2 separate regions of the Homo sapiens genome follow, and region 1 is linked to region 2. The links come from fine-mapping of genetic effects on gene expression. A gene starts in region 2. The other region holds a variant in brackets. All regions are shown on one strand. Distances are between the middles of the regions. Region 1 overlaps SETD2 (SET domain containing 2, histone lysine methyltransferase). Region 2 holds the start of PTH1R (parathyroid hormone 1 receptor).

Region 1 (8,000 bases), 240 kb after region 2:
TGAGTATCTACATTGTTACTTAAACAGATCATACCCACAATACAGCCTTGATATCTGGTCATCACAGAAATATCTACCACTCCCTAGGTGTCTAGAATACATTTTCAGGCTGCATGTAAGCTTTCAGTACATTGACAACTCTGCAGAACTTATATTCTGTAAGTGCACCTTCCCTTCCTTCTACTCTAATCACTTTTAATTTCATTTTTTGAATGCAGCTAACTACTTGATCTACAATTGAGAAAATCTAAAGTCATTATTAAATATATCCTTGTTCAGAGTAAACAGAATAACATGGCATGGCTCTTCTCCCATGGATCCTAGAGTAAAAATGATAAAATCGAACACTGATTGACTTCTTAATATGTGATAGATATAAAGGTTTTAACGATGATTAAAACTACACCAGAGGGGGCTGAGTACGGTGATTCATGCCTGTAATCCCAGCACTTTGGGAGGCCAAGGCAGGTGGATCACTTGAGGTCAGGAATTCAAGACCACCCTCGCCAACATAGTGAAATCCTGTCTCTCTGAAAAATACAAAAATTAGCCGGGCATGATGGTGCACGCCTGTAATCCCAGCTACTTGGGAGGCTGAGGCAGGAGAATTGTTTGAACCCAGGAGGCAGAGGTTGTAGTGAGTCAAGATTGTGCCACTGCACTCTAGCCTGGGCGACAGAGGGAGACTGTCTCAAAAAAAAAAAAAAAAAAAAAAGACCACTGGAAATTACCAATCATTTTGAATATATTATTATTTATTGCCCACCCAGCAGCAAATAACATTTTTAGCAATGGTCAAAGGATGAAGGATTTGCTCTAGAGTGAGGCAGTATAAAGGAAAGCTTTCAGGAGGGAAGAGAATTTAAGGCAGAATCTCTAATGATACATAGGATATGCATAAAGAAAGCTGGAGATACAACTGTCCCTGTCTGTGTGCAGAAATAGGAAAACAATCCCTGTTTGGACAAAGAGAAATGAAACAACTAAAGATAACTGATAAGAAAGGTGAGTTGCTGGAGGATGAAAAGACAGGCTGATGATATGCTACCAAGGGCTCTGAATACAAGGCTAAGTTTGAACCTAATCATGAGAACAACCGAGAACTACCAAAAGCTTAAGTGTGTGAATAATATGAAGAAATATTTTTCTTCATGTATGCTTCACAAGGTTGGCAGGAAAACCCAGAAGAATGACTAGGGCAACAATATGAAGTTAGAATAATGCTAACTCTATGTCTTCTCTTCTTACATCTGTACTGTCATCTCTCTCTCTAGTTTGGATAAAAGAATACCAAAAATCCTTTCTCTTTATTTTTTCAAGGTATATATATTTTATTTTTGCAACACTATAACATGAGCAAAACCAAAAACTGAGCTTTGGGGAAAAAAAACCTTCACTAACATCAAAAATAAGGTATACTCTTTCCATGTAAAAGACAAGAATATATTTTTCATCAATCAGATTGGTTAAAAAAATTTTTTTGAGACAACATCTCGCTCTGTCACCCAGGCTGGAGTATAGTGGAATGACAGCTCACTGCAAGCTCCACCTCCTGGGTTCAAGTGCTTCTCCTGCCTCAGCCTCCAGAGTAGCTGGGATTACAGGTGTGTGTCATCATGCCTGGCTAATTTTTGTATTTTTTAGTAGAGATGGGGTTTCACCATGTTGGCCAGGCTGATCCTAAACTCCTGGCCTCAAGTGATCTGCCCGCCTCAGCCTCCCAAATAGCTGGGATTACAGGCATGAGCCACTACGCCTGGCCAAAATTAAATTTTTTAATGTAAAGATATTTACTATTTATAAGAACAATACAGAAGCAAATGTCTGTCAACAGACTAATTACCGGCTAACTATGAATAGAATACATAATGCAGTCAAGAGAAAGATTTAGGCAGGTCTGTACACAGAGCTCTGATTAGGTCTGATTAGCAAATCCAAGCAAGTATATAGAATAAGATTTTATCTGTATACATAAAAAGAGGAAAACATCTACCTATGCTAGCATAGGCATTAAAAGTTTTCTGGAAAAATGACAAAACAATGGGACTGATGTTTGGGAGAAGACATTCACTTTATGCATTTCTGAAATGTTAGGGTTTTATTTCACTTTATAGTGAAAGCTAAAAAATACCAACATTTACCTCTAGGACATAAATATTATAAAAGATAAAAAAGTACTGAATAGAAATTAATATTATAGGACTACTTTACCAAGCACTTAAAACATGGTGGGTACTGTAATCTAATGCACAATGCAAGGGATATTTGTTTCCCTATTAATATGTTTTCTACTATACATCAAAGTGTCTACTATACTTTTTTGCTTGTAGTCATCCATAGGTAGGAGAAAGGTTAAATTTTATTCTTCATTGATAATTCAATATTTAGAGACATTTAATAGAAGTGTTGAGCAAAAGCCGAGTATTCTAATTTACTTACCATTCAATCATGAGAAGACGATTAAGACAATCTTCCCCACATGCTATTTCACCTTGAGCTCTTTCATCTTTAGAAAGAGGTGTACACTCACACTGCATTCGCTTAATATCTCGATGAGATTTATTCTTCTTTCTATTGGGTAAAATTTCATAAAAACTGATTAAATAAATTTCCTGGTAAAGATATAACATATATAATCAAATATGTGCCAAATCTCATTAGATTCTTTTGGGTTTTTTTAAACAGGGTCTTGTTCTGTCACCCAGGCCAGGGTGCAGTGATGCGATCATGGCTCACTGCAGCCTCAACCTCCTGGATTCAAATGACCCTCCCACTTCCACCTCCTGAATAGCTGGGACCACAGCTCATGCCACCACGCTTGGTTTTTGTTATTGTTGTTGTTTGTTTGTTCTTTAATATTCTGTAGAGACAGGGTCTCTCTATGTTACTCAAGCTGGTCTTGAACTCCTGGGCTCAAGAAATTCCCCTGCCTCCACTTCCCAAAGTGCTGCAATCGCAGGCATGATCCACTACGCCTGGCTAGATTCACATTTAATGATTCCTGTAAGTCAACCATTCAAAATAAAACATCTAATTATTAGTACTTGTGAGACTGAAAATCCTAAGACCTGCATTACCAAAAAAAAAAAAAAAAAAACAAACAAAAAAAAAAACATGAGAAGGGCAACCTTAACCTTGGCAAATGGGGAAGATGAGATGAGTTCAAGACTACTCATTCTGGAACTCAGCCCTTATTTCCTACTCCAGGTCAGCTAAGCCTTGGATTCAGAACAGTTTCAAGTGTTAAAGTCATACTAGGTTCTAGGAAAAATAGGAAAA[C/T]TCATGCATTTCAAATAGTGACATAGCTGGTTAAAGTTAAGTTTAAGAATCAGACCTCATGGATGAGCAAATAATAGTTGAGATATAAGATTGAGGGAGAAAAGGGGTTTCTAAAAAAATAAGAGTGAGTTCTAACTCAATCCAATATTTTAGAGAATCTTTCAGTAACATCACATCTGCATAAATTTTGTTTAAAAGCAGACTGAATTTTTTAAATGAAGTGTAATTACAGAATAATCAGGTAAATGTTTAAGAGGGCTCAACTTTCTCCATGCAGACAGATTTATTTTGGAGAAGAACATAAACTGCTAAAATTTGATTGCGTTCATAATAAGCCATGCCAGAGTGTGCAAAGCAAAAGTGAAAATGTGATTATTTATTGGCCTTTTTGCTGATGAACTAGTCTTTTACCCTGGTCTAAAAACAAAACAAAACAACCAAAGATGGTCAAAAAAGATCTGTTATGTTTAAGATTAGGGAACTATAAGAACTATAACTCACTCTTTGACTATCAAACAGGAAACAGCATAGCTGCTCTAAATGGTTATCTAATCTCCTACCTCTAATCTGCTTTGATCTTCAACATATGTTCTATTCTAGTGCCAATTTTATGAAGTGCCTCAAGAGTGTTATGATAGTTTTAACTAAGTTTAGGTGAAAAGAATGATTCCTCTTGATTAAAGACACAATTCGTTAATGAGTATATGAATATGCTTAGCCTGAAGATGACTAAACGAAATTATCTATTTAGAAGTACTTAGCTACAATTTTGAAGAATCAGCAGCAGCTTTATTTTGTATTGCTCTAGAAGGCTGGAATAGGACGAATGGGCATAGATTTTGGCAGGTAAGCCCTTTTCCATTAAACATAAGAAAAATGTTTTCATTATATTCATATTATTTTTTATAAGAGTTTGTCTTCTTAGTGGCTCCTAAATGCCTAGCATATAACAGGCACTTCAAAATTTTGAATATATAGGCCAGGCGTGGTAGCTCACGCCTGTAATCCCAGTACTTTGGGAGGCTGAGACGGGCGGATCACCTGAGGTCAGGAGTTCGAGACCAGCCTGGCCAACATGGTGAAACCCATCTCTACTAAAAATACAAAAATTAGCTGGGCGTGGTGGCACCCGGCAGAGGTTGCAGTGAGCTGAGATCACGCCACTGCACTCCACCCTGGGAGACAAAGTGAGACTCTGTCTCAAAAAAAAAAAAAAAAAGTTAAATATATATAAATCCTTCCCACTGCAAAGTGGTGGAAGCCCTCTTATGCCTCCACTAACCAAATCTATGTGCACAGTTTTATATATATATATCTGATTCTCAATGCTAAAGAAAAGTCAGAGAATTGGACTGATTAGTTTTATTTATATTCTTTTACAAAGATCTTGTAAGTTCCATTAGTCTACTCACACAATTCCTAAAGGGTACTACTTAAAATATTGAATATTTTAAATGTAAACTTAATTTATAACTAGATATAAATGAAAATAGCTGTAAAAGGCTCTCTGTTAAAAGGTTATTTTGTAATAGAAAAAAATTTCTGGTAGGACCTACCTTTAAAATTAAGTCTTTTACCTTATACACAGAGGAAAATTTGATTTAATAACATTTTGATCCTTAAAGATACAATGGCTAGGTTGATTCTCAACTAGCAGGAAAACTTCCAAAAAAGGAGAGTAAGGGGGCAGGATACTTTTTGTTTTGGTTTTTTAAGCACAATCAATATAAATTTACATCAGGAAAATGAGAAAATTATCAAGGAGGGGTTAAAGTTAAAACAGACTGAGAAGCCCTGCTCTAGAGGACTATGTTTTCATTACTCTTATTCTCATTATAATTTGTTTCATGTTAGGGATTTTTTGATAAACCACTTTATCATTTCTAAAATATTTATTACACTATTGCCAGATTTAATCTATTAACAATAGTCTAAAAAAAAATGAGAGAAGAAAATTATGTTCTAGTCTAGTTCTAACTTTATAAGTACCTGATATGGTTTGGCTGTTTCCCCACCCAAACTCAACTTGAGGAGGTAACTGAATCATGGGGGCCGGCCTTTCTCGTGTTATTCTTGTGATGGTGATTAAGTCACACAAGATCTGATGGGTTTATCAAGGGTTTTCACTTTTGCTTCTTCCTCTTTTTCTCTTGCCACCACCATGTAAGAAGTGCCTTTTGCCTCCTGCCGCAATTCTGAGGCCTCCCCAGCCATGTGGAACTGCAAGTCCAATTAAACCTCTTTTTCTTCCCAGTCTCGGGTATGTCTTTATCAGCAGCATGAAAACGGACTAATACAGTACCCAAAGATACTTCATTCTGCACATTTTTGAAAATAAAATCCAAAGTAACCACTTTTTTCTTCTCTAAGTACAGATTATTTTGCTGGGGTTTTATTCTGTTTTTTTGGTCAGACTTTCACATGTAAAAGGAATTACAGAAATACTGGGCTAGCCTAAATTGTACCTTGAAAACCAAACAAGTAATGAAAGAAAAAAATAGACATCTCCTTTCCTGGGGATGGGGCGGCGGGGGGAATGGGGAAAGGAATCTATACTATCAAATCTAAATAGGTAAAAACACTTTTTTAGACTTTTAAATTTACTTTATCCCACAACTCTTTCATGTGTTTAATCTCATACAGTCTGAATTGTTTAAAGGCTTTTTCTAACAACAAAAAAAGAGTTAAAATTTGTCAAACAAGTATTAATTAGACTTACCTTTCTGTTAAATAAACATTTTCTTCAATAAGATCAAAGTAACATGGCATTTTCCCTTGCTTGGCACATTCCTTCCATCGCTGTGGGTCCCTGAAGTCATCCATGACACAGGAGGGCCCAACCAGTGCTGAACCTGGGGGCACTGATGTCTCTCCCTGCTCTACCTCCACTCTAACTTTCTTTCTGTCCTGAAGCTCACCATCACTTTCAGAATCACTCTCTATTTCCTGCCTCCTTTTTTTAAGAGGCCCTCTATCTTTGATATCATTTTTTTCTAAGTTTTTTGAAAAATCTTTCTTTTCATTCACAGCTAAAGTGTCCTTAATGGAATTGCTGCTTATTTCAGGTGCTTGCACTGACCCCTTGTCTTTCTGAAGGGATAGAAGAAATTTATCGGACTGGTCTGAAAAATGGGATCCATCCTGTTGATCCCAATTCTCCTCTTCTTCACGATCATCTGTTAGGGAATCTGGTACTTGTCCTTGAGTTCGATCATACACAACCCCAGTTCCAGGAGGTCTACCTGATCTTGGATCCCAGTAACCATTGCCTTGCCAGTAATCACGTGTCCCACCATACTGTTCTGCATTTTGCTGATACTTGTGTCCACCACAAGCTCCATAGCTACTGTCAGGTTGCTGATACGTGGTAGAAGGCTTTTCTTGAGAGAAGTCCCAACCTAAGTTTCTGAGCTCTTCTGATGAGTGCAAGCCATCCACATGTGGTATCTCACAAGAGGAAGAAAAACTCAATTCTGTTTTTCCCAGTCTACTATCTGGCCTGTTTTGGAAAGTGGTCTGTTGCCAAGACTTATTTGGGACATCTTCAAAATCAGAAGAATAAATTGGCAGCTCTTCTTGCTGCCTAGAAGGTATTTTGGCTTTCACGGTTTCCTCTGAATTTGGGTGACCCAGAGGGTCAGATTTCACATCTGTATGACTTGTACTATCAACCCCATCACTCTGAGGATGAGAAAGTTCAGGCAGGCGATTATCTATTTGTTTTCTACTGGACTGTGTAAAAGAAATTTCCGGATTCTTCTCTGTTCCTTTATGAAGGAAAAACTTATCAGTTTGAGGACAGGCTTTACTTGCTATACTTTCAAATTTTTCCTCATACAAATGTCTCCTTGACTCCAATCTCTCATCTTCCCAATGGTCAGAATAGTGTCTATAACTTTGACTGCTCCGAGAAGAACAAGGACTTGTTTCTTCCATGGGCAAAGTAGAATTCTTTGGCACAACCACAACAGACTGGAGACGGTTTCTTGGAATACTGCTATCATCCGAATCTGTATCTTCTGAATCACTTTCATCATTTGAACTTTCAGAAGAGCCAGAATAATCTTCATGAACTGTAGACACAATTTCTGGGGCATGACCACTACTGTCACACTTTAATGCATAAGTTACACCATCACTGTCTTCCATGGTTAAATTCAAATCACAAGAAGAAAATACAACTTCTGAGTCATCAGAAGTATGCACATGTCCTCCTTCTCCTCTTTCATCTAAAGAGATTTCTGGTCTTCCTCTTCTTTCAGGCAATATGGAATTCCCTTCTTCTTGAGCCTCTTGCAAACATTTCCCAGATAACCCATTATTACGCCTGTTCTCCCTGGAAGCAAATCCCTTTCCTGAATCAGGAAGGTCACTACCTACTTCTACTATTGTTTCTTTCCCTGCATGCTTTAAAAACTCTGAACTTTTTTTACTCTTTAGCACTGCATCCAGAACTGGAGATGTGTTCTCTCCGCATTTCAAGAGAGTTAGACTGTCCACCTTTATTCCTGGTGGAAGACTCTGAAGAGATGAAGCAATACCTGAACTCCCAATAGGTTGATATAAATCATCAAAATGATTAACAGAAGCTGAACTAGTGCTACCGATGCTCTGCTTATATTCTTCACATGCAAATTTTGAGTGATCTGTCAAATTTCTACTATCACATATAACTGGTTTTGATTCCAAATGCACATTCATAAAGCTATTTGAAGAAATCT
Region 2 (9,276 bases):
TGGGATGGGGGTCGAGGGTGGGTCCTCTCTGCCAGCTCCAGGTTCAGCTGCTGTCTCAGGGTTAGGCTCCAGCTCAACCCCTGGGGCTGCTCCCTGGCTTTCTGAGAAGATGCCGTCAGGCAGATTCCATCTCATAACGTTTCCTGGAGGAAAACGTTCCGACAATGAGCGTTCCAACAATGAAGGGATCTGTCTCTGATCCTGGGGCCTGCTCATGAGGAAACTGAGCCTACCCATGGCAACTGAGAGACAAAGAGGTAAGGGAGCAGGGTGTTTGGAATCCACAGCTCTGGCCAATAGGTGTGCCCTCCCCCAAGAGATGGAGGCTTCTCAGCAGAGCCACAGAGATAACCTAGCCCCTGTCCTCAAGGGCTCGCCGTCTATTGGGACAGAGGCAGCAGCATATCATGCCGTGCTAAATTTTCTAGTCATACCAGGAGGTCTGAGGTCTCACTCTGCTGGGAGTTGAAAGGTGCAGATCCAGGAAGGCTTCAGAGAGGAGGGGGCCTTTGGAGGGCATACAAGAGCCACCCAGGCAGAGAAGGGAAGGACAAGTCAGATGGCAAGAAGTGCAGGGGCAGAGGCCAAGAGCTCATGGAGGGTTCAGGGAATGGGAACACAGGGCAGTGGGGCCAGGCAGGGAGTTGGCTCCCCCAAACTCTTGAGTCTCTGCATCTCCCAGCTGAGCCCAACACACAGTAAGGTGCAGGCAGGGGCCACGGAAGGCAGGGCTGAGCTTGCAGAACACATTGTTCCTCCTCCTCCTCTTCTTCCTCCTCCTCTGTTTGCGAGGTCATCACTTCCTTGCCCCCCTCCACCCCCAAGGAGCCCTGTGTGGTTACGCTTGATTGGAAAAATTGATGTGGGGCCGCTGAGTTTAAGGGCGGGGGTGGTCACCCTTCCATCTTGAACCCAGCTCTGCTCGTTGGGCCAAGAGTGGCTTCCAGAGCCAGCTGTGCTGAGAGAGGGTGCTGCTGTGAGGACAGGATGTACTGGATGGCCCTGAGTTCAGTGCTCCAGTCCCTTGCCTCCACAGCCCCCACACCAGCTCAGGAAAGGAGTGCAGTGGGACTGGGGGAAGCCTAGACCACTGACCTCCCCAAAAAGATCATGACTAGTCCGGGAGGCAGAGAGGCCCCAGAGATAGAGCAGAGGTCAGGGCAGGCAGGAGCTGGGTGTGTGACTTTGGGCAGAGGCCTGACCTCACTGGGCCAGACCAGCTGCCAGTGTCCCCTCCAGCTTCAGGGAGGCATCTGAGTTATGCCTAGCCACCTCCCGTTAAGCCCAGAACCTCCTCCACACTGGCGACCCACCTGTGCCCAGTGAGAGCCCTTCGGCCTCTTCCAAAGAGGCTCACCTCAGAGGGCACGGGTGTCGGAAGGCCTGGAGACTTGCTCTGGATGAGCGGGGTGACCTCTGGCATGCCATTGCCCTTCTCTGGATGTCGCTTTCCCATACACGGTTTTATAAACTTCCCTGAGTGCTTCCCCTCTCCAGCCAGTTCAGCCAATGTCCACGGTGCCTCTGGGCCAGGCTTGGTGCAGCCTGCAGGATGGCCAGGCAGACACAACCCTGATTCCAGCCCTAGAGACATTCCCAGTGTCCGCCAGCTCATTGCCTTGCCCCAGCCAGTGTCCCCTGAGGCATTTAGAGTGAGAGGAAACTGAGGCCCAGAGATTTGGCAAGGCACGACAAAGGACCACCCACATAGAGGGTTCCTCCAGGCCTAACAGGGCAGGAGTGTCAGGACTAGGGGTTCTCCACTCGAGGGCTCCCGGCCACAGCCCCCGGCAAGGACCCAGTGTCTGAGCTAACCCCCTCCCCACCACCTCCTCCTTCCTGGCCCCCTCCTCCCTTCAAACCGCAGGGCCCAGCCGGCCTCTGGAACGCGTGCCCGGGACCTCGGTGATATTTTGAGTTTAAGAAAACTTTGCAGTCGGCAGGAGCTCTTAAAGGTTATAAATAGCAGCAGCGGGAGCCCATGCAGGGAGAGGCGGAAACACGTGTCAAACACGCCTGGGAGGGGGTATTCCGAGGCACAGACCCCCCCCCACACACACAATAGGGACGCACTAGGCTTCTGGGGATTTTACAACCACTGGAGCGGGAAATCACACTCTACCCAGAAGGCGTCTGGGAAACAGGACCCGCTTTGGACCCCCAACCAGTGTCCCCAGTGGCTGGCCAGGTTGCCCGGGCATGTGGGGGCACTGATGAAAGGGGATCTGGTGGGGAGGCCTTTCTCCTACCCCACTCCCCGCCACCATGCCACCAGGGATCTCCCTCAGAGCTGCCCTTGGGAACAGCAGGGCTGGGGGTGGGTTTGGAGAGAGTCCACTCTAACCCGTCTGTGGCAGGGAGAACTGAAGACCTGAGTGGGGACAGAATTGTTACCAGGTCATGGGAAAGCTGGACAAGATTTGGACCCCCAAGCCACAGTTCTTCCCATTGAACACTGTTGCTGCCTCCCTTCCATTTCCAGGGACCACGGGACGGTGCTCTAACTCACCCAAAGAAAGCACAGAGATGGGCACAAAGGTAACAACACGCAACACTGAGGGATGCAGACCTGAGGGCCCCATCCCTCAGCATCCAATCCCAGTGCTTCCCCTTCCGGTGAAGACCTCCTGCTGAACAGATGAGGAACAGACCAGAGACTTGCCCTACTCCAGTGGGATGCAAGCCCATGCCCACACTGCCAGGGAGTGGACTGTCAACAACCCAAGGCCAGGTATGCAGCCTCAGCAAGGACATCAGCTCCGCTTTGGACACAGCAGTCTCAGCCTTGCCTTGAGGGTCATGCAATTTGAGGACATGCCCTCAGGAGCCTAGTCTGAGGAGACACCCTTCTGGGGCCTGATCTAAGAGAAATCAGTTTTGATGGCCTCGTGGCCATGGAAGGAACCCTTCAACCTCCACCACCTCCCTGGATTTCCCAACTGCTCCACAATGTGCATGGGGCAAGAACTGTTACGACGCTGCAAATACCTGGAAACTCAGGCGAGTCTCAGGCTCCCACCCACCATCCCACTTATGCCTCACTCATGCCCCACCTGCTGCCCACAGCTCCCAGCAGGTCTGGGGGCGGCATCCAGCCTTGGCATCCAGGCGTTCTGAACCTCAGGGAGCCCCAAAGGGTTTATGGGTCTCCCAATGAATGGGAGCCTGTTGAGCTCGGAGGGGGCCGGGCCCGAGTAAACATGGCTGGGTCTGAGCTGCCATTCTCCCCCTACCTCTTCCCCAGAACCCAGGACCAAAATACAACTTCCTGTCCCCGGAGCTGAGGGCCAGACTTGCCCCCCAGAGCCCTGGGCTGGGGCCCACAGGAGGAACGCAAACTGGCAGGCCCAAGGCTCGAGGAGAGAAAGGCCTTCAGGTTTTCAGACTCCCAGGTCTGCTTGCATCCAAGACCCAAGTGCCTGGGCACTTTACAGATCCCCTTTGAGCCTGAAACTGCCCAACTGTTAACAACAGATCAGGAAACTGAGGCCATGAGCAGGAAGGCGTCTGGCTCAGGGATCCACAGGTCAAAGCAGAAAAGGCCCCAGCCTCCTGCTTCCCTGGCCAGTGAGGATGGGGCCTGTGGGCAGGGTAGGGCAGTGCATGTGGACTCAGGGGAGGTAGAGGCTCTGGCAGTCAAGAGCCAGGGCAACAGGGAGGCTTGACAGAGCACAGGGGAACTCTCCCTCCTTTGGGCACAACTGCCCACTGACCTCCGCTGGCCTGGTCACAGAATAGCCTACGTGTCCCAGGATACCCCTTGGAGCAGTGCACTTCAGAGTAGCTGGGGCAGGAGTCCCATAAGTGCTGTTTGTCATAGTTTCACTATGTCCCCTGGCCAGTCCATTCTGCTCTTTGGTCCCGTTTCCTCCACCTGGAGGCCAGGTATCACCGAGCCTGCCTCCCTGACTAACTTGTGAAACAAAAAGTACTTTGGAAACTCTAATGAGTGGTACCCTCCCCAGGAGCCTGGAAGACCCAGGGAGGGGGGCCCTAGGAATGTGCCCAATGGCTGGGGGTGGTTGGGGCCAGCTGCCTCACATGCAGGGCACTGGGGGCTACAGCTGGAATGTGCTGAGTGGCAGCTGCCACGTGAATCATTATACCTCATCAGGCTGAGCCTAGGACTTCCAGACACAAACCAGCTCAGACTGGGCTCAGGCAGAAGGGCAGCCTCCAGCCGGGTCACAGGGCCTGGGGGTGAGGTTTCTGGGATCTTGCAGGGTCTCTGCCTCCCTGTCTGCCCACATCTTCATCCTGAGCAACCAGCCCTGGTTCTGAACACAGCTCGTTCTACAGACCCACAGAGAGAAGTCATCCTGTCCACAGCCCCCTGCCTTTGAGACCTGTGACAGCTTAAGCAGACCCTGGGCCTGGAAGGGCCTGGGAGGCAGATAGGGAGGGCTTCCTGGCTGACTCCTCACCAGGAGCCCACATTCCAGTGGGCAAGGAGTCAGATATGAGGTGGCTGTGGGGCTGTAGGGGTCAGGACACGGGCTGGAGTGGAATGACGGCCCCCTCCATCTCTTCCGTCTAGGAGCCACTGGGTACCCAGTGCTGGCAGATCAGGCTTTCTTGGGCCTCAGTTTTCCTGCCTGTGACACAGGCAAGAACCACCTCCAGCCCCCCTCTGATTTCTCTGGGTGCCTTAAACTTGAGTGAAGTCACTAGTAGGGGCTGTGTTCATACCTCGTGGCAGCCTGATATTCCTGAGATGTGGAAAGGACCAGAGGGTTAGACAGGGACACAGAGACTAAGAGAGAGGCATGGCAGGGCAAGGAGAGGACTATTGAGGCACACACACGTGTCTGGCAGCCTGAGTGGGCCCAGTTACCTGGCAGGCAGACCCATGGGTGCTGAGGGGAGGGCCCAGCCCTGGGCATCTGAACACCGGCACACTTGGATCTGCCTCTGTTGCCTCCTACTCCTGACTAGGAGCCTGGGACAAAGTCCTGGGCCAGTGTAGGGCTTGGTAAAAAATAATTAATTTTCTTTTCAAGTGGAAGCTCTGACTCAGGTCTTTTCTTGTCCCCAGCAGCACTATCCTTGCTTAGGCCTGAGCCACAGAAGCTGCTCAGGGACTATCCATGGCCTCCCCGTGGCCAACTTGAGTCTGCTCTGCAGCTTTAGGCCCGACTTGGAAGGCCCATGGGCTGCAGGTGAGTGGGGGCCAGGGGAGCCTAGGGGCCTGAGCACAGCTGGGAAGCCCAAGTCTGTGGTTTCCCTGGGGGTGAGTGTCTAAATACCTGGGCCGTGCTATGGGGCAGACAAGACATGCCCGCATGGAGACACATCTGTGGACCTGGTGTTATGACAGCAGGGGGCTTGTAACCATGAGGCCAGCAGGGACAGAAAGCCCATACCTCTAGCTCCTTGGGAGCCTTAGGAGTGCTCCCTGGTTGGGACAGAGCCTGCTGGCCCCAGGTGCCCCCATCGCCCCTCCCTTCACCTTCCTGAGAGGCAAGAAAGCCAGGCAGCCATGCTTCTGCTGCAAGGGAAGGGGGCTACCCAGCCAGCTGCCATGGGAGCCTCCAGCGACTCAGCTGGGTGTCAGGGGGTGTTTATGAGCAGCCGAAATGGCTGTAAAAGTGGCACCTCGCTTCACTTATGGCCTAGCCATCCCCTCCCCTACTGGGCTCTTGCCTCAAAAAGTTTCCAGAGGGGCCTAGAAGCCGAGAGAGGTCTGGGGTTGAGGGCTGGGTGGAGGCACAACCTGGGGTCAGAGTTCAGCCAGGGGCTAGAAATCAGACTGGGATAAGAACTCAGCCTGAGGCTGGGGCTCATGATGGAGATAGAGCTCAGTCTGGGATCAGGGCTAAGCTTGGATGCAGCCTGACTTTGGGGCTAGTGTTGGGATGAAGCACTGGGGAAATATAAGGACTCAGAAATAGATGTGAGCCATTAGTCCCAGAGAACCCCTGGTCTGGCCAAGGGGTTTTCTGAGGGAGGAAGGCCAGGCTGCATTGCTCAGACAGCTGAGCCTCTTGCCTTGCTTGTTGGTGTCTGATGCCCACCCTGGCCCCAGGGTCTGTGTACCTTGGCCAGAGCCCTACTCACGGTGGGATGGCTGCAGCAGAGGCCTGTCAGCCTGGGGCTGCCACACCAGCAGGGGTGGGGCCAGAGTCTGGCCCCTACTGCAGTTCTGAGATCCAGTGACCACCCTGGCTCCTCCTCCTAGGCCCCAGCCTGGGGATTAGAGACAGGGACTCACTCCTACTCCCCACCCCCAGCCAGGCCTTTTCAAACCCCATTGAAACTAACACTGACCTGACACTAACCAGAAACTGACTCTGAGCCCCTGGGGCGTGCTTGTCAAAAAGGGCAAGCTGACTCTGCCAGGTGCTTGGGTGCTACCAGTTAATGTGTGACACCCCCACCCTCATGGTAGCACTTTAACCAGAGGCCCGAGGGTGAGAGAGATGATCTGTGGCCCCACCCACAGCTGTGGAATGTCCAGCAGGGGACTCTGGGGTGAGGCACATGAGTTATGGCAGGAGGAATGCCCTTAAGGGACCCAGCACCCATCAGATTCCTCTCTGCAGCCCTCTCCACAGCCCACCCTCATCCTCCCAAGTACAAGTAGTATGTTTCCAAATCTCAAGTTTTCCCTGGTGTCAGATCTGAAAAGAACTCCTCCCCTCAGCCTCTAGTTTTATCTCTCAGTCCTTCCAATCCCTCCATTAATGTTCTTTTCTCATCACCAAGGGGGAAAGCAGGGTGGAAGATCAGTGGTCACAGAACCATAAAACTTAGAGACACTTAGAAACAGAGGCATAGGCCAGGTGCGGTGGTTCATGCCTGTAATCCCAGCACTTTGGGAGGCCGAGGCAGGAGGACTGCTTGAGCCCAAGAGTTGGAGACCAGTCTAGGCAACAAAGTGAGACCTCGTCTCTACAAAAAAAAAATTTTTTAATTACCCAGGTGTGGTAGCTCATGCCTGTGGTGCCAGCTACATGAGAGGCTGAGGTGAGAGGATTGCTTGAGCCCAGGAGGTCAAGGCTGCTGTGAGCCATGACCGTGCCACTGCACTCCAGCCTGGGTGACACAGCAAGACCCTGTCTGGGGAAAAAAAAAATGCTGCGTGTGGTGGCTCACGCTTGTAATCTCAACACTTTGGGAGGCCGAGACAGGATCACTTGAGGCCAGGAGTTTGAAACCAGCCTGGCCAACATGGAGAAACCCCATCTCCACTACAAATGCAAAAATTAGCCAGGCGTGGTGGTGCACAACTATAATGCCAGCTACTCAGGAGGCTGAGGCCAGAGAATTGCTTGAACCCGGGAGGTGGAGGTTGCAGTCAGCCGAGATCGCACCACTGCACTCCAGCCTGGCCAACAGCCCTGTCTCAAAAAAGAAAAGAAACAGAGGCATAATAAAGCTGAGACCATTAAAATATAACACTGAAGAACCACAAGTGTTCTTTAGGTGCCCATTCTGGCACCTGGGCCTCCGTCCCAAGGAGGCTACATACCATAGGAGGCAGCCCTGAAATCACAACCTCCCTCCCCAGTAACGGAGGATGTGGGCACACAAGGAGGGAGGGGAGTGTCCTTTACACCAGGCAGAAGAGTATGATCCTGGCAGAGGAAGCAGCAAGGACAAAGGCAGGAGAGTGGATGTGTGAAGAAGACCAGGAGTCTAGCAGACAGTTCCTGTTAGGGAGAGTCATTTTTGGAGGAAACTGTCTCAAATAGCACAGCCCTTGAACACCAGAAAAAGAAATGAGGGCAGTGGGCACAGAGAAGGGAGGCAGCCATAGAAATGCATGGGGAGGGCCAAGGCTGGTGGTTCATACCTGTAATCCCAGCACTTTGGGAGGCTGAGGCAGGTGGATCACTTGAGGTCAGGGGTTCGTGACCAGCCTGGTCAACATGGTGAAACCCCGTCTCTACCAAGAAATGCAAAAATTAGCCAGGTTGGTGGTACACACCTGTAGTCCCAGCTACTTGGGAGAATCACTTGAGCCTGGGAAGCGGAGGTTGCAGTGAGCAGAGATCATGCCACTGGACTCCAGCCTGGGTGACAAAGTGAGACTTTGTCTTGAAGAAGAAGAAGAAGGAGAAGGAGAAGAAAGAAGAAGAAAGTAGCAGCAGAAGAAATACATGGGGAATGCACCTGGGAGTGCAGTCTGGAAGCTGGATGGGCTTGAGCCAGCAGAAGGGTGGCTGCAGCTGGATCCTAGGCCTTAGGACTTGGGCTTGACAGATTTGCACTGAGGGTTGGAGGGCAGGTTTGCAGGCTCCGAGGAGCTCAATATCCACAGGCTGAGTCTTGAGAGCCCCTGGAGCCCATGGGCCAGGATGCCCACCCTCGTGGAAACTAAACAGTAAAGTTAACATTGCCCTTGAATCAGCTGGCCAACCTCTCCATTTTGCAGATGAGGAAACTGAGGTCCAGACAGCCGAAGAGTGGTAGTGTCCAGGACACACAACTGGTAAGCGGGCAAGCACAGGCTGTTGCTTAGCCCAGACTCATTTCCCAGGGCCTCATGCATTCGCTTCCTCCGCGATCCTTAAAGCCCTGCGCTCCAGGCATCCCCAGCCCCTCCCTCTGCCTCAGTTTCCCCACTTGGTACCGGGAGGTGGTAGGTTTGGGGTCGAAGGGCCCCTCCTCTTAGAGCTCCAGCGTGCCCTCCCCAGCCAAACACAGAAATCCCGCCCCGTTCAGCCCCAACCCCCGCGGACTCCTCCTTGCCTTCCCCTAAGTCGAGGGTCCCAGGCGGCCCGGTCCGAGCCGGCCGATAGCTTTTGGGAGTGGGGGTGGGAACGGGGGAGGGAGGTGAAGCCTGAGAGTGGGTGTCTGGATTGAGCCCCAGGTCTGGCAGCCTCGAGCCTCCGGGGTTGGGGCTGGGCAAGCTGGAGAGGCCCGGCCAGCAGCTGAATGGGTCGAGACTCGGAGACCCGGACCCGAAGAGACGCTGGGCAGGGAGGGAGCGGGATGTGTGGCTGCAGACCTGGGCGGGGGTCGGGGCTGGCCTAGGGCCGAGAGGAACGACAGGCCTGGGATGGGACTGAGGGCAGGGGACGAGGCGAGGGTGGGGCTGGACGTGGGGGAGGGCGGCAGCAGCCAAGCCGGGCTCGGGGCTGGCAGCCGAGCGGCCTCCCCAGGGACCCCGACCCGGCCCGAACGGGAGCCCAGTGGACTGACAGCGTCGCGGCCGGGGGCGCGCGGGGGTACCGGGCAGCCTCCTCAGGGGATTCGCCCATGATGAAAGAGGGCTCGCTTCTCGGCTCAGGGTCTCTATTCGCCAGCGGGGGCCGGATGATCAAGGGAAAA

What was found. PIP is the estimated chance that this variant, and not a neighbour inherited with it, causes the effect. A credible set is the group of variants that fine-mapping cannot tell apart.
Region 1: its variant is the best candidate, but not a certain one, in a credible set for the expression of PTH1R in tibial nerve (GTEx, PIP 0.86).

What each region holds. Positions count from the first base shown.
Region 1 is chr3:47,114,184-47,122,183 of GRCh38, forward strand. SETD2 (SET domain containing 2, histone lysine methyltransferase) reads right to left here. Exons shown (of 21, transcript NM_014159.7): 3 at 5,999-8,000; 4 at 2,440-2,571. Among named protein-coding and RNA genes, the nearest start is that of SETD2, 46 kb to the right of the region's middle. RefSeq lists enhancers at 1-34, 35-543. The variant C/T (reference allele first, on the strand shown) is at 3,280.
Region 2 is chr3:46,872,685-46,881,960 of GRCh38, forward strand. It overlaps PTH1R (parathyroid hormone 1 receptor), which reads left to right and starts at 5,037. Exons shown (of 16, transcript NM_000316.3): 1 at 5,037-5,159; 2 at 8,378-8,434. It also overlaps a transcript of MYL3 not described here. RefSeq lists an enhancer at 570-1,424.